3 linked regions of the Homo sapiens genome follow. The protein of the gene in region 1 purifies or fractionates together with the protein of each later gene. This does not show direct contact. Each region holds a gene or a part of one and is shown on either strand. Other genes may lie near its edges.

What was found.
Region 2: the proteins of NAGPA (region 1) and UBR3 purify together in Homo sapiens (affinity purification with mass spectrometry; 2 studies listed by BioGRID and IntAct, with this or other methods). This does not show direct contact.
Region 3: the proteins of NAGPA (region 1) and NGLY1 purify together in Homo sapiens (affinity purification with mass spectrometry; 2 studies listed by BioGRID and IntAct, with this or other methods). This does not show direct contact.

What each region holds. Positions count from the first base shown.
Region 1 is NC_000016.10:5,030,912-5,038,884, forward strand, and holds the start of NAGPA (N-acetylglucosamine-1-phosphodiester alpha-N-acetylglucosaminidase precursor), read right to left. Parts: upstream 3,025-7,973; 5' UTR 3,004-3,024; coding exon 2,918-3,003; exon of another isoform or gene 2,818-2,917; coding exon 2,362-2,817; intron 974-2,361; coding exon 834-973; intron 1-833. UniProt on the Homo sapiens protein: Catalyzes the second step in the formation of the mannose 6-phosphate targeting signal on lysosomal enzyme oligosaccharides by removing GlcNAc residues from GlcNAc-alpha-P-mannose moieties, which are formed in the first step.
Region 2 is NC_000002.12:169,921,420-169,928,457, forward strand, and holds part of UBR3 (E3 ubiquitin-protein ligase UBR3), read left to right. Parts: intron 1-2,509; coding exon 2,510-2,575; intron 2,576-2,664; coding exon 2,665-2,754; intron 2,755-4,199; coding exon 4,200-4,328; intron 4,329-5,272; coding exon 5,273-5,325; intron 5,326-5,418; coding exon 5,419-5,552; intron 5,553-5,900; coding exon 5,901-5,986; intron 5,987-7,038. UniProt on the Homo sapiens protein: E3 ubiquitin-protein ligase which is a component of the N-end rule pathway. Does not bind to proteins bearing specific N-terminal residues that are destabilizing according to the N-end rule, leading to their ubiquitination and subsequent degradation.
Region 3 is NC_000003.12:25,718,440-25,724,477, forward strand, and holds the end of NGLY1 (peptide-N(4)-(N-acetyl-beta-glucosaminyl)asparagine amidase), read right to left. Parts: intron 4,461-6,038; coding exon of another isoform or gene 4,296-4,460; exon of another isoform or gene 4,238-4,295; intron 1,753-4,237; coding exon 1,575-1,752; intron 1,197-1,574; coding exon 1,021-1,196; 3' UTR 505-1,020; downstream 1-504. UniProt on the Homo sapiens protein: Specifically deglycosylates the denatured form of N-linked glycoproteins in the cytoplasm and assists their proteasome-mediated degradation. Cleaves the beta-aspartyl-glucosamine (GlcNAc) of the glycan and the amide side chain of Asn, converting Asn to Asp.

The DNA of each region.
Region 1 (7,973 bases):
GCCTTCCTTGACCGCCCACTCTTTTTTTTTTTTTGAGACAAAGAGTCTCGCTGTGTTGCCCGGGCTGGAGTGCAGTGGCATGATCTCAGCTCACTGCAACCTCCACCTCCCAGGTTCAAGCAATTCTCATGCTTCAGCCTCCCAAGTAGCTGGGACTACAGGCACACACCACCATGCCTGGCTAATTTTTGTATTTTTTTTTTTTGTAGAGATAGGTCTCACTATGTTGCCCAGGCAGGTCTTGAACTCCTGGGCTCAACCGATCCTCCCGCCTCGGCCTCCCAAAGTGCTGGGATTATAGGTGTTAGCCACCACACCTAGCTTACTGCCCACTCTAAAATGGTCATGGTATCCTGTCCCCATCCCAGTATTCTGCATCCCAGTGGTTCTCAACCTTGAGTGTCGGTCAGAGTCACCATGGAGGCCCGTTAAAACATAGACTCTTGGGCCTTGCCTCTGATTCTGCAGGTCTGAGGGTGTGGGGCTTTGAAACAAGCTCCTGGGCCACGCCGATGTTGCAGGTCCATGAAGATTTTTTTCTCTTCACTTTTCTCTTCCTGTACCCACAGCTCCGGTCCCCATCTCTCCCCTTTCCCCTAACTTTATTTTTGTTTCTGAGCACTTATCAATTCTTTTCAGCATATTCTATAACTATTTTTTGTCCTATATATTCAATATAAGCCTATCTTCCTCCCCATGAATCCCCAGTACCCAGAATAGTGCTGGGCACAAAGTAGCTGCTCAATACTTGTTGAAAGACTTAAGAACAGCTCCGCCCAGCCCACTGGTCCTGGTTCTCGAGAGGGTTGTTGCCAACAGCCTCCCCATCCAACCTGTCTCCTGTGTCTCGTCACACTCTGTGGCTTGGCTCTCGTTGATGTAGATGCTTCCATTACGAATCAGCCACACGACCCCACTCAGCAGCTGCACAAATGGGTTCTCAGTGTCCAGCACCTCCTCCTCAGACAGGTACCTGGATCCGGGGAAGGTGGGAAGCTCACTCACCAGCAGGGGCAACTGCAGATAGTCAGGCTCTTTCTCCCTAGCCATCCCAACCTGGCTGCTAGATTCCCCCTCATGCCCCAGGAACCTCCTGGGGCCTGAGTGTAGCTGGGACAACTTAACAGCCCTAGGAATCTCCCTGTTGTCAGAGCTGAAGCTGGACAGGGTTCTGACAATACAATCCCCACAAGCCTTTGCAAACAGTCTGTTTCATTTAACAGAAATGACCATCCCCCAACAGAGCTCAAATCCATCTATGGCCCTCAATCCCCAGGCCATACCCAGCCCAACTACCACTTGATCCCTGTTACGGCCCTTCATTGGCTTCCTTGTTTCTCCACTGCTCTCTCCCACCTGGTCCCACTCAGGATCAGAACAAGCTTTATCATCAACAAATACTTTTTTTTTGAGACTCAAATAATTTTTAAGATAATTTTAAATAATTCAAATCATCAATCTTGCCAGGGCGTGGTGGCTCACACCTGTCATCCCAGCACTTTGGGAGGCTGAGGTGGGTGGATCACTTGAGGTCAGGAGTTCGAGACCGGCCAGGCCAATATGGTGAACCCACTCCCCCGTTCCCCACCCCATCCCGTCTCTACTAAAAATACAAAAATCAGCCGGGCGTGGTGGCACACGTCCGTAGTCCCAGCTACTCCAGAGGCTGAGGCAGGAGAATCGCTTGAACCCGGGAGGCAGAGGTTGCAGTGAGCCGGTATCATGCCACTGCCCTCCATCCTGGGCAACAGAGCAAGACTCTGTCTCAAAAAAAAAAAAATCATCAGTCTTGATGAGTTGATGTTTCTGACACCCCACTCCTTTTTCAGTCCCTCATACACACAAGCCCCCCTGAGCCTCTGAGCCTTTGTGCGTGGGGTTCCTTTGGACTGAAACGCTCTTCCTCCAGTTCTGACCTTGGCTCACTTAGTGATTCATCTTCAAGTTCCCACTCAAAGGTCACCTCGGAGAGGCGTGTTCCAGATCACCCTCCCTAAAATCAACACTATTTACAACGGGTTCACCCCGTTGGTTGCTTTGCTGCACACACAGCAATCAGAATGTATGTTAGCTATTTACCCGGCTTTTGTTGATTTTTCTAGTAATGGGGGAGGGCTGTTAAGGCAAAGACTGTGTTGTTCACGGCTATCTCACCGGGGCGCGGCACATTGCCTGATACAAGCAAGTGCTCAATGATACTGGATGATGAATAAACTCTGCAAGGAAGCGATTCCTATCCCCATTCTGCAGAGGAGGAAACAGGGGCTCAGCTTGGTTAAGTGACTTGAACACGGAGGCACGGCTACAACCCAAATCTCAGGCCCTCTGCCCTCGACAGCACGGGGCTCCCTGCCTCCTCACCCGGTGACCAGGGTCCCGTCGCGGCGGATCCCGAACTGCGCGTTCTGCAGCCCCCCGGAGCTGCTCACCCGCCGCTCGTCGCTCACCACGTTCCCCAGGCACTCGCCCGAGTTCATGCGGAAGAAGCCGCCGTTCTGGGCGACACGGCAGTCGGCCGCCCGCGCCGTCTCCTCCACGGTGGCGCGTCGTCTCGCCGCGCAGCCGCCGGGTCCACCGGGCTCCAGCACCGAGAAGGTGCGCAGGGGCTCAACGGCCCGCGTCAGGTGGCCGGCCACCGCGCGGTCCCTGAAGTGCGACACGAAGGTGCGCACGGCCAGACCGCCGGCGCCGGGAGTCGCGGGAGGCGGAGGCCAACTCTCGTGCTCGCGGTTGCCGGCGCGCACCCGTGTGCAGTCCCGGGGGAGGCGCGCGCGCGCGCGTGGATAGGGCAGTAGCAAGTCGTCGTCGCGGGAGGCCCTGCGGGGACGGGCGGCCGTGAGCTCAGGGGGCTGTCCTCGTGAGCTCGGAGGACAGGGGGGACCCCCCGAACCAGGCTGGCCCAGGGAGCTGCACTCACCCCGAGTCGAGGCCGCCGGACGCTTCCCAGAGGAAGCCGAATAGTGCAAGCCGGAGGAGAAGCCAGCGACCCGTGGAGGTCGCCATATTGGACCGGGGCCTCGGGTCATGTGGGCTCGCCTCACGTGACTCAAGTCCCAGGGTGGCCGCTTTCAGCTCGGACTGAATTACCTGCGCTCTTTTCGGCTGGCGGGCTGGCGGGCGGTGCTGGTGATGTTAACTTTTTATCTCCAGGTAATCTCAAACCTACAGGAAGTTGCAAGGAGAGCATAAAGAACTCTCGTAGAACTGTTATTCATGTTTAGCAGTGGTTTAGGCTTGCCTGATTTACTCAATCATTTGTACTTTGTTTTTTTTTTTTCCTGAACCAATGGCAACCAAATTGCAGATGTCATGATCCTTTACCCCATACCTCGCCATGAATCTCCTAAGAACAAGGGCATTTTCTTAACCACAGGGCAAATATCATTAGGACAACTCCCATTGACATTTCTGTGATGTCATCCACAGCTAACCTTCAATTGTCCCTCTAATGTCTTTTTTTTTCTTTTCCTTTTTGTCCGCCCCTGACCCTGTAACCCAGGAGTTGCTTTTAGTTGTCATGTCTCTTTGATCTCTTCATCTGGAAGGCTCCTCAGCCTTTTGTCTTTTACTACCTTGACATTTTTGAAGACAGCCCAGCTACATGATTTGTGTGACTCAATGCAAAATGAAAACGTGGGGACACTTACTAAAAAACCCAGAAAACTATTAAGAATTTCAAGATGGTCAGAGCAAATGGTTGCAGCAAGCCAGGGACCTTCTGAGTGAGCCCATGAAGCTGGCCCTGAGTATAGAAGCCAGTTTATTTTGTAGCATGTACTTCAAGCTTCCTTTGAGAGGATTCTTCTCTTCAGGCCTCCTGTCCCAGTGCAGTGTCCAGGGTTGGGTGGTGTCTTGGTGCCAGTGCAGTGCGTGGGCCATTCCAGGAGCCACGGCAAGTCTAATTGGCTTGATACTGTTGCGGTCTTGCCAGTGCACCTTAATATAGCAGTTTCTCCTTGTCTGAACTAGTCCCGGGGTTCTTTGTCCTACCTCCAAGAAAACTAAGGAGCGTGGACACAAGGGTGGGGTTGGAGCGAACGTTTAATAAGGGAAAGAAGAAAGCTCTCCAAAGTGGAGACGGGAGTCCGAGTGGATTGTCGGGTTACAGCTGAATGCAAAAAGCTTTTTTTTTTTTTTTTTTTAAGACAGAGTTTTGCTCTTGTCACCCAGGCTGGAGTGCAATGGTGCGATCTTGGCTCACTGCAACCTCAACAACCTCTGCCTCCTGGGTTCAAATGATTCTCCTGCCTCAGCCTCCCGAGTAGCTGGGATTACAGGCACACGTCACTGCGCCCTGCTAATTTTTGTATTTTGGGTAGAGACGAAATTTTACCATGTTGGCCAGGCTGGTTTCAAACTCCTGACCTCAGGTGATCCGCCTCCTTCCGCCTCCCAAAGTGCTGGGATTACAGGCGTGAGCCACTGTGCCTGGCCGCAAAAAACTTTTATAGGACACTGCTCTCCTCCTGGTAACTGAGTAACTTCTTACCAGTAAAACTGCCTGTGCAGCTCCCCTTATGTTATGCAGCTGTGGGTATGTCTCTAGGCAAGTGCAAATCGCTGCTTCTCTTGTTTGTGTAACTGTGGGTTTGTTTTAGATAAGGCCCCCTCCTCCCTGTGCCGGTTTCCATGGAGCCCACTGTGTATATGCCTGAAAAGGAGAGGAAACTTTTTCCCGGGAGCCTGCTAATTATGCAAAGAACAAAGGGCTTCTGCGCTGGACCCTGTCTGCTTATCTCCGTGCAGGTCCAGCCTGAGTTTTTTCCCAGGTTGCTTTATTTTTGCCAGTTTCTATGACTTTTCAGGCAGGCCACTTCTGAGGTCAGAATTTTCCCCAACGGATTTTTCTTTTCCTTCTCCCTCACTACCACAGGTATGGGGGGACACAGATAGGGGCCAGGCCAGCCCCTTTTCATCCACAGTCAGCACTTCTGGTGCTTGATCTCAGGCCCCTCTTTGAGCCACTGCTCCTTTGAGCCAGTCCACGGTGAGGGTTAGTGAACTCAGTTAGAGAGTGTCCCCCCAAACTCATGTCCTTACCAGAACCTCAGAATGTGAACTTGTTTGGAAATTGGGTCTTTGCAGATGTAATTAGTTAAGATGAGGTCATTCTGGAGTAGGGTGGGCCCTGAATCCAATCTGACTGGTGTTCTTGTAAAAGACACAAATACACACAGAGGAAAGAAGCTCATATGAACACAGGCAGAGATTGGACTGATGCAGTCATAAGTCAAAGAATGCAAAGAAGGCTAGCAGCCACCAAGAGCTAGGAGAGAGGCGTGGGAGAGACTCTTGAGCTTTGACAGAGAACATGGCCATGCTGATGCCTTGCTTTTGGAAACTAATACAATTCAGGGACCTCAAAGGGGTCCCGGGAACAGCTCTGACGCTCCTAGTTCACTTTAACCATGTACAAAATGACTGCTCCTCCTAGAGGCTTAAATGACCAATATATTGATGTGAAGGGAGTATATCTTTCTGAGCTTTGCATTGGGCTGCTAAAAATAACCAGCAGAGGAGCCCAGGCCTGACGCCTACTCCCTGCCTCCGGAAGCGCTCTTTTTTTCTGCCTCAGTTAGGAGTTGCAGGAACAGGCAGTCTTTGGCAAGTTCTGACTTTGGTTTTCTCCCTACTTTGAGGTTTGCTACTCCTTTGCCAAGTTTTTCTAAGCACATAACGGGTGCCACAGAAATTCTGCATTTGAACAGAGCAGCCCATATCCACAGTTCTAGCCAAAGCTGCTAAGAAGCCAAGGGTTTTCTTTTTTGCTCTTCAGCCTGGAATACTTTTGTCCCCTCTTAGCATCCTCATTTGAGTTCTACCATCATTTGTGTGTTCAACAGGCTGAGCACCTCGTATGTGCTCCGTTGCAGCTGATCCCTGCCTTCATGGAGCTTAGCTTTTCAAGGGGAAACAGACATGAAACAGTTATGTGATGAATGCAAGAAGCAAAGGGCAGGACTGCGAGAGAAGGATGTTGCAGGTGTGGCAGGGAAGCCTCTCCAAGCCCCTTTAGACTGTGATTGAAGGAAAGAAAAGATGCGGCTGTGTGCAGATCTGGGCCAGAGCCTGAAGTGGGAAACAGCTTGGGAGGTGCAGCAGGAAGAGCCACCTGGTGGGAGAGGAGGGCCGTGGGGGAGGGGTTGGAGGTGGTGAGCAGGGTTGAAGTGGGAGGGCCAAGGCAAGGCCAGATCGTACATGCAGGGATCCAGGGAAATGAGTATGGATTTCAGCCAAAGTGAAATAGTAAGCCATTGGAAGGTTTTTTTTTAAACTTTATTAAGATAAAATTTACATACTGTAAAATTCTCCTAAGTGTACAATGCAATGATTTGTAGTAAATGCACAGCGATATTCCAGCATCACCATTATCCAGTTTTAGGATTTTTTTTATCACCCAAAAAAGTTTTGTTATGTAATTCTATTATTATTTAGAGACAGGATCCCATTCTGTTGCCCAGACTGGAGTACAGTGGTGCAATCATCGCTCACTGCAGCCTCGACTTCTTGGGCTCAAGCAGTCCTCCCACCTCAGCCTCCTGAGTAGCTGGGACTACAGGTGTGTACTACCACACCAGGCTAGTTTATTTATTTATTTTTAGATGGAGTCTCACTCTGTTGCCTAAGCTCGAGTGTAGATTGAAATGGCCTGATCTTGGCTCACTGCAACCTCAGCCTCCCAGGTTCAAGCGATTCTCCTGCCTCAGCCTCCTGAGTAGCTGGGATTACCGGGGTGTGCCAACACGCCCGGCTAATTTTTGTATTTTTAATAGACACAGGGTTTCACCATATTGGCCAGGCTGGTCTTGAACTCCTGACCTCAAGTGATCCACCCCCGTTGGCCTCCCAAAGTGTTAGGATTATAGGCGTGAGCCACTGTGCCCGGCCCGAAAGTCATTTTTGTAAAACTCTTAGGAAATGGAAACGTCAAAGGATCAATTTCTTCTGTCCGTGCTGTGTATAGTATCTGTTGTGTAAAGGGCTGGGAGGGCATTAACAGCATCCCAGAAACTGGCGTTGAGGTTCTGAGGGGCAGGAGATTCTGTCATAGGCTGCGTGTCTGGTAGGTGGCCCCCACGTCCAGTTGGGTACATTAGGGGTGCCCCTCATCCCATGTGGACTTGCAGGGTGGTGTGGGGGCTGCCAGCTGGGCAGACCAGACTCAAGCACGCTCACAGCCCAAGGTCCCTTCCACCAGCTAAGACCTGGACAAAACATCTCCAGGTGCCTCTTTTTTCTTTTTCTTCATTTTTTCTATTTAATTCAGCAAATATTTTTTAAACATTTCTATGTTCCAGGCTGTATAGTAGGAGCCAGGCACCTGAAGAGGAGCAAGACATCGTCTGTGCCCTAAAGTCATTCACAATCTGAAAATAGAGTTGACAAGCACACAAACGAAGCCAGAGTGAGCTGCCACAGAGCAGTGTAGGGAATGAGATGGGCAAGTAGGTGTGAGGAGGGGAGGAGGCTTCACAGAACAAGGGACAACCTTGGGGAATCTTTTTTTTTTTTTGAGACGGAGTCTCGCTCTGCCGCCCAGGTTGGAGTGCAGTGGCGCCATCTCAGCTCACTGCAAGCTCCGCCTCCCAGGTTCATGCCATTCTCCTGCCTCAGTCTGCCAAGTAGCTGGGACTACAGGTGTGTGCCACTACGCCCGGCTAATTTTTGTATTTTAGTAGAGAAGGGGTTTCACCATGTTGGTTGGCCAGGATGGTCTCAATCTCTTGACCTCGTGATCTGCCTGCCTCGGCCTCCCAAAGTGCTGGGATTACAGGTGTGAGCCACTGCCCCCAGCCAATCACGGGGAATCTTAAAGGACAAATCCAATTTAACCAGATTGGGGGTGGGGGCAGATTCGCAATTGCAAAAATGTGGAACCAGCCCAAATGCCAATCAATGAGTGGATAAACATCATATATATATGATGGAATACTACTCAGCCATAAAAAGAAATGAATGAATGGCATTCGCAG
Region 2 (7,038 bases), on another chromosome or scaffold:
GAAGTGCTTATCAAGTAGCCAGTCTGTGACATTAGACAAGGAAGGAATATGGACTTTAACGTTATGGAGAATGTGAACATAGGATATGCTAAAGCCCTGAAAGATAAAATAGGGTCCATGGCTTACTAGTTAATAGCAATATGTACTGGGTACTGTGCTGTTTTACTTATTTCTCGCAGCTACTAAACTCTTTATTATTCCTACTTTAAGGATCAGACAACTTAGGCACAGAGAGGTAACTTGCCCATAGTTTTACAGCTGGGTGGTAGAACCAGGATTCTGCACTTAGGAAGCAGGCACAGTGGTTCACGCCTTTGGTCCCAGCACTTTGGGAGGCCGAGGCAGGTGGATCACTTGAGGTCAGGTGTTTGAGACCAGCCTGGGCAACATGGTGAAACCCTGTCTCTACTAAAAATACAAAAATTAGCCGGTGTGGTAATACATGCCTGTAGTCCCAGCTACTCAGGAGGCTGAGGCAGGAGAATTGCTTGAACCCGGGAGGCAGAGGTTGCAGTGAGCTGAGATCGCGCCACCGTACTCCAGTCTGGGGGACAGTGCGAGACTCAAAAAAAGGGTCTGCACCTAGGCTGGGCCTGGTGGTTCACGTCTATAATTCCAATCCTTTGGGAGGCTGAGGCGGGCAGATTGCATGAGCCCAGGAGTTCGAGAGCAGTCTGGGCAACATGGCAAAAACCCTGTCTCTACCAAAAACAGAAATTAGCCAGGCATGGTGGTGTGTGTCTGTAGTCCCAGCTGCTCAGGGGGCCGAGGAGGGAGGATGACTTGAGCCCGGGAGGTGGAGGTTGCAGCGAACTGTGATCGTGCCACCATACTCCACCCTGGGCCACAGAGTGAGACCCTGTCTATTTAAAAAAAAAAAAAAAAAAAGAGTCTGCACTTATCCACTGTGCTTAGTGCCTCAAAGGAAATTGAGGGAGATTCTGACTTAGCTAGTTAGTGTAGAATATGTTACTAAGGCGATTATGGTAATGGAGGGCAAACTTTTTAAAATTTTATTTTTAATTGTGGTAAAATACACAGAAAACATAAAATTCACTATCTTAATCATTTTTAAGTGTATAGTTCAGTAGTGTTATGTGTATTTGTATTGTCGTGCAGCCAATCTCCATAACTTTTTTATCTCATAAAATTGAAACTATACTCATTAAATAGCTACTCCCCATTTCCTCTTCCCCCAGCTTCTGGCAACCACCATTCTACTTTGTATCTCTACGAATTTGGCTGCTCTAAGAACCTCATATAGGTGGAATCATATAGTTACTGTCTTTTTGTGACTGGCTTATTTTACTTAGCATAATATCCCGAAGGTTTATTCATGTTACAGAACATTGTTAGACTTTCCTTTCTTTTTATGGAGGGCAAACTTTTATTTATTAGAACAAATTTTTATAGCCTTTACATATTGAAGAGGATATTATTATCTTACTGGTTTTGAAAAAAATAATTATTTCAGGGATGGTGACATATTTAGACTCCTTATAACCTCTATAATGTAAATTATATACATTAGCATAATTATCTGAATGTCCGGGATAAACATTTTTAACAAGAGAATATTTAATAAGAACTTAAAAAGCATTAAAAACAAACAATACCTTTTCAGTTCTTAACTCATTTGTTTAAGAAGGACAGCTGTGGTGTATTTTTGCCCTGTAGTGATTTTGTGATCCATGGGATTCACAGATTTAAAATACAGTTTTTGTAATATTTACAGGAATGCCTAAGGTCATTCACATATTTTTTATGAAGTTTTGTTATGGAGGCTGGTGCGTTTGGTACTGTTTGGAAGCATCTTATCTAACTGGTGAAGGAATCTAACGATGCCCTGCATTTATACCTCTGTTTAGGGATGTGGTCAGAGTCTTCTTACAGTTTTGAATATGACAGTGGAGTCCAGATTAGCTCCCCAGTTCACTACTTTTGAACTTTAGGAAGTTAGTTAAGTTTTCTAAGTTTGAATTTTGCTACTTGTAGAATGAGAATATTAGTAGCTCCTACCCCATAGCATTCTTCTGAGGATTAAATGTGGTAATGTGAATAAAGTGCTTAGCATGGTGACTGGCACATAGGAAGTGTTCAATGAATGTTATATGTGACTGTTATTACTGTCATGATGTTTGGTATACATGCGTTTGAAGAGTCCCAAATGGTCTACTGTAGCTGGAAATCCATTCCATCCCTTGTTTTAATAATAATTATTTGCTTTAGCTGAATTGAATTTAGGAAATATTAATCTGTACTGGATGCTTCAGAGGATTCAAAGTTGAGTAGAATACAATTTCTGCCTTCAAGAAACTTATACTTAAGTGTTTAAAATGGAAAAATTTTATCTATAGTGATTTTGGAATCTGCATCTTCTAAAATGTTAAGTTTTGAACTAAAAGTATAGGAATAAATCCAGGTGAGAGTATGGTTTAAACATTTTACAACCATCTTAAAATTTCTATAAAATAGTCTTTGACTTGTGCATTTTGTTTGTTTATTCCAGCCAGCACCTAACCAAGTCACTTTTCATCTGCCACTACATCGTTACTATGCTATGTTTTTGAGTAAGGTAAGACTGTCATTAAACAATTCTGTTCTTTTTTTTTTAATTTTCAGAAATAAGAATTGAATTAGTAACTTTTTTATTGTAATTTTTAGGCTGTGAAATGTCAAGAACTAGATTTGGATTCTGTTTTACCAGATCAGGAAATGTTAATGAAACTAATGATTCACCCACTCCAAATTCAAGTATGTATTCAGGCATTTAAAAAGTTTTGAAGTGGATTCCTTGTTTAAGTGATTCTTCCTTTATTTATATGCCTTTCATTGTTATTATAGCTGAGATGTTTGAAAACTTTTTTTAAAAAGTTGTTATTGTATTTTTGCTAGATTATGTTTAGGTATTTTTCATTTTATGAGATTTACTTTTTAGTTTTACTTTTTCCAGGAATTCTTTTCATGATATTTGCTTATGGGGTGGTATTTAACATACTATATAGCACTGTTTTGGGAGTCAGGAGATCCAAAAGATTCTAGCCTTGGTGCTACCACTGTTTTATTTTCCGCAAGGTTTAAGGTAATTCACCTCCTTGATTCTCAGTTTCCCTATCTGTATAGTGAGAGGAGAAAGAGGAGAGAAGAATTAGCTTATATAAGCACTGTGATTTCTTTTAATACCAGCAATGTAATTTGACAGGCCAGCTTTTTATATACATTAGAGGGACTTGCACTTCCATTTGTTTTTCCTGGCAATTTTAGATTTGTTAATTATTATAATATTGAACTTGAACTCTGGGTGTTAGGAAACATAAAATTATGACTGCTTGAAGCCAGGTGTGGTGGCTCACGCCTGTAATTCCAGCACTTTGGGAGGCCAAGGCGGGCAGATCACGAGGTCAAGAAATCGAGACCATCCTGGCCAACATGGTGAAACCTTGTCTCTACTGAATATACAAAAATTAGCTGGGCATGGTGGCGTGCACCTGTAGTCCCAGCTACTCGGGAGGCTGAGGCAAGAAGAATTGCTTGAACCTGGGAGACAGAGGTTGCAGTGGGCCAAGATCGCGCCACTGCACTCCAGTCTGGCGACAGAGTGAGATTCTGTTTCAAAAAAAACAAAAAAAATGATGACTGCCTAGTTTTAGTTGACACTGGACATAAATACATGAAGAATTAAATACTGATGTAGTGAGAACATTTATTCTAACCTCCAATATTTGGAAAATTAGCAGTATAGATTTAAGATTGAGTTAGGGTGAATTAAAGATGTAGAATGTATTCATTGACTTTGAACAGTTGGTTTTATTTTATGCTTATTCTAGTGTCTTTCTTTAAACATGTATATTAGGATTGTTGTTGTTGTTACTTAGGGTTTTCTTGAGGGAGAAATAGAGTGAAACATAAGCATTGATTTCTTATGAAAGATGTCAGTGAAAATCATCATAAATGTATCCAGAGGCCAACATGGAAAACCAACTCATTTGTTTAAACTCTAAAAAAGTGGCTATGTAAAAACATAATTATTGTTAAAAAAAATGTAAAAATGTATATTTCAACTGATTATCTTTAACATTGGACAGAATATCGGGCTTATACTATGATCACATCATTAAATATTTTGAAATGGTTATTTATAATATTTTGTAAAGATTGCATTTAGATAATTTATTCTTTGTCCAATTTACTTTTATTAGGCAAGTCTTGCAGAAATCCACAGCAATATGTGGGTAAGAAATGGTCTGCAAATCAAAGGACAAGCCATGACGTATGTCCAGTCTCATTTCTGTAATTCCATGATTGATCCTGACATTTACCTGTTACAGGTAAGCCAGCTAGATAATGCAGATATACTTTAGAAGTGTCTCATTTGTACCCAAGGGATTTTAATTTATAGAGGTGACTGCGTGATGACATGGAGAGGCCAATGCCATTGAAAGAATAATTTTTTACTTACATTTCCCAGGAGAAGAGGCATACCACCCAACACAAGGCTACAAGGAAAGCACCAGATTTTGGTCAAGAGGCAGAAAGGAGTGAGGGGAGAGCCTAGGCCAGAGCCTTTATTGGGGTTTCTGCAGGAAAGGCAAGGAAAGGCAAGGCAGGATTGGCTAATTTGAATAATTCCAGCAGGCTTTGAGGCATAGGGGCTGTATCTGGCTCTGCGGTACCTGGCCCTGGGTTGATTTAGGGGAGGGGAAATACTGGGTTGATGTGTGAGAGTTAGATAAAGACAGTGGTTGGCTTGCATGACAGGCATTTTCCCAAGTAAGTTGTTTAGTATGTTCAGGAATTAACTGGCTCTGGGAGGGACTATCTGTCTTCAGGTCTGTAATGCCCCTCAAGATGTCAAAACATCATAATATACAGAAAATAAAAATCATAGCCAGGCGTGGTGGCTCATGCCTGTTATCCCAGCACTCTGGGAGGCCAAGGCAGGCAGATCACTTGAGGCCAGGAGTTTGAGACCAGCCTGGCCAACACGTCGAAACCCTGTCTCTACTAAAAATACAAAAATTAGGCAGGTGTGGTGGCACACACCTGTAAATCCCAGCTACTCGGGAGACTGGGGGATGAGAATTGCTTGAGCCTGGGAGGCAGAGGTGGAGGTTGCAGTGAGCTGAGGTTGCACCAGCTTGGGTGAGAGTGAGACTCTGTCTCAAAAACAAAAAACAAAAAACAAAAAACAAAAAAAAGTATAGAAAAACATGATTAATAGAAGAAGGAAAACTGAATATTGAGAAATAAAGCATTTTGTTTTCTTTTAAAGGTTTGTGCTTCTAGACTTGACCCAGATTATTTTATTTCATCCGTCTTTGAAAGGTAGGCATAATTTTATTAAGACAGGTATTAGGAAGTGTCCAGTTAATTTTGTTTTAATTTATAAAAATATGTTTCAAATATTTCTTCTTGTAGATTTAAGGTAGTGGATTTGTTGACAATGGCATCACAACATCAAAATACAGTACTTGATGCAGAGCATGAGAGGTCGATGTTAGAAGGCGCTCTTACATTTCTTGTGATTCTTTTGAGTCTTCGTTTACATTTAGGTAAAACTCACTGATACTAATACTTATGCATTAACTGTTTTCCTCCCTTTCTCCCCCTCCCTGTGGTAGTAACTGGCTTAGGGAAAAAAGGAAAGGATGTAGATAAATGTAAACAATGTTTCAAACTCTTGATATGTTGTACTGTAGGTATACCTTTTAGAATATCCTTTGCTTAAGGGAACTGCAAACAGCAGTTAAACTGCAGTTATGTTTGGAGCATAGCTTCTTTACTCTTTAATTTGAAGCATCTTATATTTGGTAAAACAGCTTAGTAAAAAGTGTGGTAAGTTTTTTTCTTTATAATTTATGTATACTCAGATTTGTTAATTCCGTTTTTAATAATTTTAGGAATGTCTGATGATGAGATTCTCAGGGCCGAGATGGTAGCCCAGCTGTGTATGAATGACAGGACACACAGTTCATTGCTGGACCTCATATCCTTTTAAAATTTTACTTTCTGTTAGTTGCAGGATCTAAAATAAGTATTTTTTATGATTAATAGTTTATCAATTTTTTGATTAATTTTTTTTCAAAGTTGAAAAATAATATAGAAAAAGAAGAACACCAGTTGTGTGCTCAAGTATGTATTCAAGCCTGGTGACTGTTTTTTTTTTTTTTTAACCTCCTGTTATTACCTCTTGGGGAACTCTTCTTAGACTTTAGGGTAGATTTCAGGACTGAATGATGGCTTTGGCCACCCCAGCATTTAACCTCCTAGTGGACAGCATTACTGAACGTTTTATAAAAGGCAGCTAGGTCCATTTTGTCTGTGTAGCCAGGATGCAATTCATGGTTAACAGTTAAAGGTATACCTTACGATTATTATTACCAGGATTTTAAACATTTTGAGGGTTTTTCTGTAGAATTTGGTCTTAAAGGATTTTTGAATTTATAGATTTTTGTGTACAAACAGGGAACCTGTGGTTCTTTGTATAGGACTGAACATACAATGAGAATCTGATTATCTTTTTAAGTTAATGTTAATAAAATTTTACACAAAGATTATCAAGTAATTTTGTGATAAAAATTCTGGCCGAATTTAGTATTTGTATATCTTATGACTATGTTTGGAAGAATTGGCTAAACTTTTTATTTTGTGAAATAAGTCCTATTAGAATGCCTGTTTGACAACCTTGATTTTTGTAAGCAGCCTCAATTTGATACTGTCTGATGATTTCCTTCAGTCATTATGAACTATGTGTCAGTGCTATTATAGAGTAAAAACGATCTCTGTGTCTTTCAATTTTAAAGATTTATGTGCTTTAATGTGAGGAGAGAATCTTTTTGGTTTGCCTCTTTGCTTATATTTGCTTAGTATTTTTTTCTTTGGGGATGAAATTTTGTGTTTTTGGAAAAACAATCTTTGCTCATAAAAATCTTGGCTAATTTTTCACAAGTTCTTTCTGTTTTTTAAGGAAAAGTTATTTACAAAATGGTAAAAATGAAGACACATTTTTAAAAGTTTTTCTATCGTTTTCTGAAATTT
Region 3 (6,038 bases), on another chromosome or scaffold:
ATCTTATTATATATTTTATAATACATGTCACGTTCTATTGAGTGGCACAGGGTGAGACTCTTGAGTGTGTCTTTTTCTTGTATAAAGAGTTGAGAACTCACTTTGCAGAATATCACAAAGGAATCTGGAGGCTTGGGGCTATGTCTTTTTCACCACTGCTTCCTCCACAGTGCTATCACAATGCTTTGTACATAAATGCTTAATAAATGTTCACTAAATTTGAGAGGTTATACAGAATATACACAAAACCTCTTGATACAACATATAGATACTGTATAATATAGTTACATAGTTTCAAAATCAAGAATATTTTATTCAATGAGGTAGATAAAAATATAACTCAAAGGTAAGGCATTTTCAAAATGTCCACGTATTATGGAATTTAAAATGTATCCTAGTTTATGTTGTCAATGTTAAATGTTTTCATAACTCATATCTATTCAAGTATTTTTCAATGTTTAGAAAAAAGATTTTTATTTAGCCAAAATAACCACTAAAAAGATGTAAGGCAAAATACTTCATTTTATTTCTTAAATGCCTGAATATTTATAATCATATAAATTTTCATGCATTATATAATTTATGAGCTACTGTACTTTCACATTAATTAAAAATATTAGGAGACTCTAATTTAACCACTTCTGAAGAAATGAATGGCTGATCAGAAAATGTCAAATTACTATCATAAGCCCAAGATTTTATCATAATCATGAATAGCATTTAATCATGAATATCATTATTTAACTTTTAAAACCATACTTACAGTTTTAGATTAAAATCCCATATTGAGTCAACAAGACTTTACTCCAAATTATAGTCACATATGGAAGAAAGGTTTTAATTCAATATTTTATTATAGTCCACGTATAAAGATAATTTTCATGAGGGTTACATGATGGATAGCTAGCAAAAGAAATATGCTAGCACAGGGTGGTAACTGCCAACTAAGCATGCACTGAACCAACAGACTACTTCAGTAAGTCCTTGATTATTGCCAGCTTTTCTATAATGTTCAGGTTCTCAAAGGTCACTGAATTTTATAATTATCTCCAAACAATTTTCTTCATGGTCATTTAAGCTTTGTCTAAACAGCTGGGTGTGTTGCCAAGCGACATCACCATCTCCTCTGCTTAATTCTGCTTCCAAAATAACTTCAGTGGCACCAGAAAAATCAGCATAGGAGTGAAGACTGTTATCTGTTAGAGGGAAAAAAAAAATTAACATTTTGCTTTTGGTAATTTAAAGAGCACAGATCATTTTGAAATGTATTTTATATAGGCTGATGTATAAGTTAAAATAAACCCTTAAAAATAAATACAAATTATTCTTTATGGAAGAAATGCATCCTTTGAAACAAAGAAATGATTTTTTCCTTGCATTTGTATTTCACAACAGAAAACATCAGCCTTTCTGTTACAATGGGATCACACAGGGTTTATTAAATTTTTTTTTTTTTACTGAAATAGTATTAATAACTCTTAGGTACGAAAAAGAGCTACATCTCAAATAAGTACAATTAGTCTTCAGAGTGGTAAATATATATTTCGTGATTAATTCTCCAGGCAAATGCTTACCGCCTGTCAGTTCTACTTGTGCTGTATCAGATCGCAATTTCCATTCTACTGTTCCAGTCTGAAAAGTTTGACTACTTGTTCTAATAGAAATGCTATCTACTTTTAGGCCAACTGACCCACACTCAAACTTCCAGGAAATATAAGCAAAAGATGATCCTTCCTTTCGGGCCAAATATACCTATAAGGAGTAGGGATGGGGAGAAAGGAACTGTCAGAAAAAATGAAATAGTATAGAAAACAAACTTAGTGAAGAATATTACTGTCACAGGGTAGTATGTACAAGTGGTTATTTAAAAACTAACTTTTCCCTGTTGAAAAGGTTCTTACTGCTAACATTTTTTTTGGCAATTTTTCCCATGGCATCTTTTACCCTAGAAGACAGGTATTATTTGAATGCAGATGTCCCCAAAAAGTGCAATTCTAAAGGACTGCATTCTAACCAAATTTTGGTAAATCATCTTCTTTTATATTAAGAAGTTCAACTCTTTAAAATGAGTTTTATGACTAATCCTGCTGAAAATGAAGAATCCTTTTAAATGCAACTACTCTTTAATTTTTATAAGTCTGGATTTTCATATACGCTTTCCTAGTGTGACATGGTATGCTATAGTCTCTAAATCGAGAAAATACCTGAGCCACTGCTAACTAATGGTTTAAAAGGTGATATCCATGCTCACTTCTCTAAATAGCATGCTCCCTGTTCCTTCATCAACGCCCTTTAGCACATTAAATGTATACTATTTAAGGCATCTAAGCCTACTGGCTGCTTCCAGCTCATCCCCTCTCATACTTTTATCTACACTCCTCAAAACATTGCCATGAAAACTGACATCCACAGCCTTGGTCTTTCACAGGTCACTCTATTCAACCATGCTCAAACTCTTAAGACTCTGACGCTTCAGTCGTTCATCCCTTACGTCTGAATTCCCACAAAATTCTATGTATTTGTTTGAAATCTTGGAAAGAAACCCCTTCCTCACTAATACTGCACTTACTACTACAGTTTGAACTTTACACTTATCTTAATGCAATTGACTACTGTTGTACAATTCCAATTGCTCTGACCATATTTTTATTTTCAAGTGTATTATTTTAGACACAGGGTCTCACTCTGTCACCCAGGCTGGAATGCAGTGGTGCAATCATAGCTCACTGAAGCCTTGAACTCCTGGGTTCAAATGACCCTGTTGTCTCAGCCTCCAACTACCATGCCTGGCTAATTTAAAAAAATTTTTTAGAGGCAGGGTCTCACTATGTTGCCCAGGCTGGTCTTGAACGCCTGCCTCAGTCTCCTGAGTTGCTGAGATTGTAGGTGTGAGCTACCGTGCCTGGCTCTGATCAGATTAATGTTTTAAAATCCCACTCTCTTTATGTTATCTGCCTGGTCTGAAATGTACAGCAAGTACTTGGTTCTTACATTAAGTCTAATCTATTAGCTTTAAAAATCCTCCACAATTAGGCTGGGCACGGTGGCTCACGCCTGTAATCCCAGCACTTTGGGAGGCTGAGGCAGGTGGATCACGAGGTCAGGAGATCGAAACCATCCTAACACAGTGAAACCCTGCCTCTACTAAAAATACAAAATATTAGCTGGGCGTGGTGGCAGGCGCCTGTAGTCCCAGCTATTCAGGAGGCTGAGGCAGGAGAATGGTGTGAACCCGGGGGGCGGAGCTTGCAGTGAGCCGAGACTGCGCCATTGCACTCCAGCCTGGGCGACAGAGCAAGACTCCATCTCAAAAAAAAAAAAAAAAAAAAAAAAAAGAAAAGAAAAAATCCTCCACAATTTCATCCCACCTTGAATTGCCAATGCTCCTTTTTATTTTTTTATACTATACTCCTTTATACTGCCCATACTCTGACCTATCTTCATCAAATCATAAGCTCTCTGGGGGCACAGTTTCTGGATTCATAAAAGCATTTAGTGCCGGGCACAGTCATTCACACCGGTAATCCCAGCACTTTGGGAGGCTGAGGCAGTCGGATCACTTGAGGTTAGGTGTTCAAGACCAGCCTAGCCAACATGGTGGAACCCCATCTCTACTAAAAATACCAAAATTAGCCGGGCATGTTAGTGCACACTTGTAATCCCAGCTACTCGGGAGGCTGATACATGAATATTGCTTGAACTAGGGAGGCAGAGGTTGCAGTGAGCGGGATGGTGCCACTGCACTCCAGCCCGGGTGACAGAGCGAGACTCTGTCTAAAAAAAAAAATAAAAATAAAAACATTTAGTAAATATTATTAAAGATCTGTATACACACATATATATATATATATATTCATGTTAGACTTGATCTTTTTAGAAACATCTAACTCATACTCTAGCTCAGGGGCAAATAGTTGAAAGTACCATATAAAACACATCTGCCATGGAATATCCTATTATATGTACTATTCTGTATTCTGGTCTTTACTCATATCAAGTAAAAAAATCAATCGCCAATAGTATTCTAATCACCATCTATTTGACAACCAACCTATAGCTATTTTTCTTCCAGGTATGCCCATTAATTTAATCTGAAAATTTTTAGAATCAGTGAGTTAGAGATTATGTAACAACTGAACAATCACTCTCCAAAGAAAATGTTCTTAAACTACTCAGAGTAGATATGTATAGCCAACTGTTATTTGTTGTTGACAAACCTAGATGTGGAACTGTCAATTGCTCCACTCAAGTTTGGACAACGCCACTATAACATCCTCTGGTGTTCATATATGTTCCTACTGCATGCTCCTCTTACAGCCGCTTGTAAGGAGGATGTGGGACTCAGGACTCCACCAGTGTTCCCCGGGAGTCATTAGTTTCACCCATCCTAAACTATTAGGCATCTGGGTTACACACAGGTTAACTGCTCCTTTAAAGGAATGGCTAGCAAAGGGGGATATCTGGGAAAGAAGAGCCAAACAGAGAGGTTACTGGAAGAAAGGTGAATTAAAAGAACTAAAAGACTTAAGGAAAGTAATCTTAAGACATAAACATTAACAGATATACTCAAATTTATCTCTCAATATGCACTTCTATATCTTGTATATTTTCAGAGCTCACTAGATTCAAATGTCCCTCAAAAGTGTGGGTATAAAATATGATAGGCTGAAATTACGTTAACTTCAAATCTAGCTTACTCCAATAACTGCCTTAATTATATTGTGTGGGTCTGGGTCAGAACTGTGGTTTTAACTGTTTAAGAGAAGGTTTATAGTAGCTGTTGAACATGTCTGACAGCATTTATTAAAGCCTTAAAATTTTCAGTCCTAAAGGCATCATCAGCTTTTAAGACTCTAGAAAGTTAAAGAATAAGATAGAGTTCATGATTTAATACTTAAATGTTTAAACATTCAAACATACTATGAGCAAAATAAAAAAGGTCTCTTATGTTAAAGAACAGTATATGGAGATAAAACACCCTATTTATACAGAAAATTCCTATCATCTTTTTTTGCACAATATATTCTGTCAAAGACTCATTTTTAGAGGTGGTAGAAAGTTACCAAGAATATGTATACTCAGTTTAGTAAATTAAAATGTACCACAACAATAGAATTTATAAAAAACCTCCAACTCTGATCCCACTATGTATAATATGAACACAATCAGTAACTATAATTTATTTAAAAGGAAAAAAAAAAGCAAACATTCACTTGTTTAGTGTAGAGAAAAAAAATTTTTTTTACAACTGTTGATTGTTCCTAACATCGTGAGTTATTTGATAGACATATTTTTGCCTGTTGGCTTTAAAAAATTTTTTTTAAATTTATTGTGTGCATTCTGTAAGCTCGGTTTTGTAATGTGTAGGTCTCTAAAAGGTGAGTGTTGCTATCCTACTTTAGCAGGAGTGCTAGTAAAGTCAGAAATCATGGAGGTTTTCTCCTGTATTCTATATATACCACCCAACCCCTCCTCCCACCAGTGACCCATCCTTGCTCCTTGTTGTAAGCACATATGAGCATATACACCCTTTGCGTGAGAACAAGACCTGTGTGTCTACGGTTTAGGCATAAGCCATACTATTCACAATATATAAAAATAGAACTTGTCTTTAGGTTGTGGCTGTAACCACTATTTTCAGGACTGAGAACAATTTGCATGTTGGCTTTATGTAACTAATATTCTACAGAAGATTTTGCTCAAAGATTTTTTGATTACTACATGTCAGGCTGCTATGGCTCCCTAGAGGTTCAGTTTGGACTATATTGTTTGAAGCTCTTCTTTAATACACTCTTAAAATTATTGTTCTACTGAGGCTGCTAAGATTCACTCAAGTTCAGTTCACCATACAGCAAGCACCCTGAAGTCCGTCATTCCCACAGATACCCAGCAAAGCAGCTGTATTTCAAGGAATCTCAAATTGTTGCTGGTAAACCGGTACTTGCAATGAGTCTTGTTTTTGGTTATTCCATTTTATGTTGAAAATCAAACATGAATCCACTTGTAGTTCCCACTGTAAATATTTCTGTGTATACTTC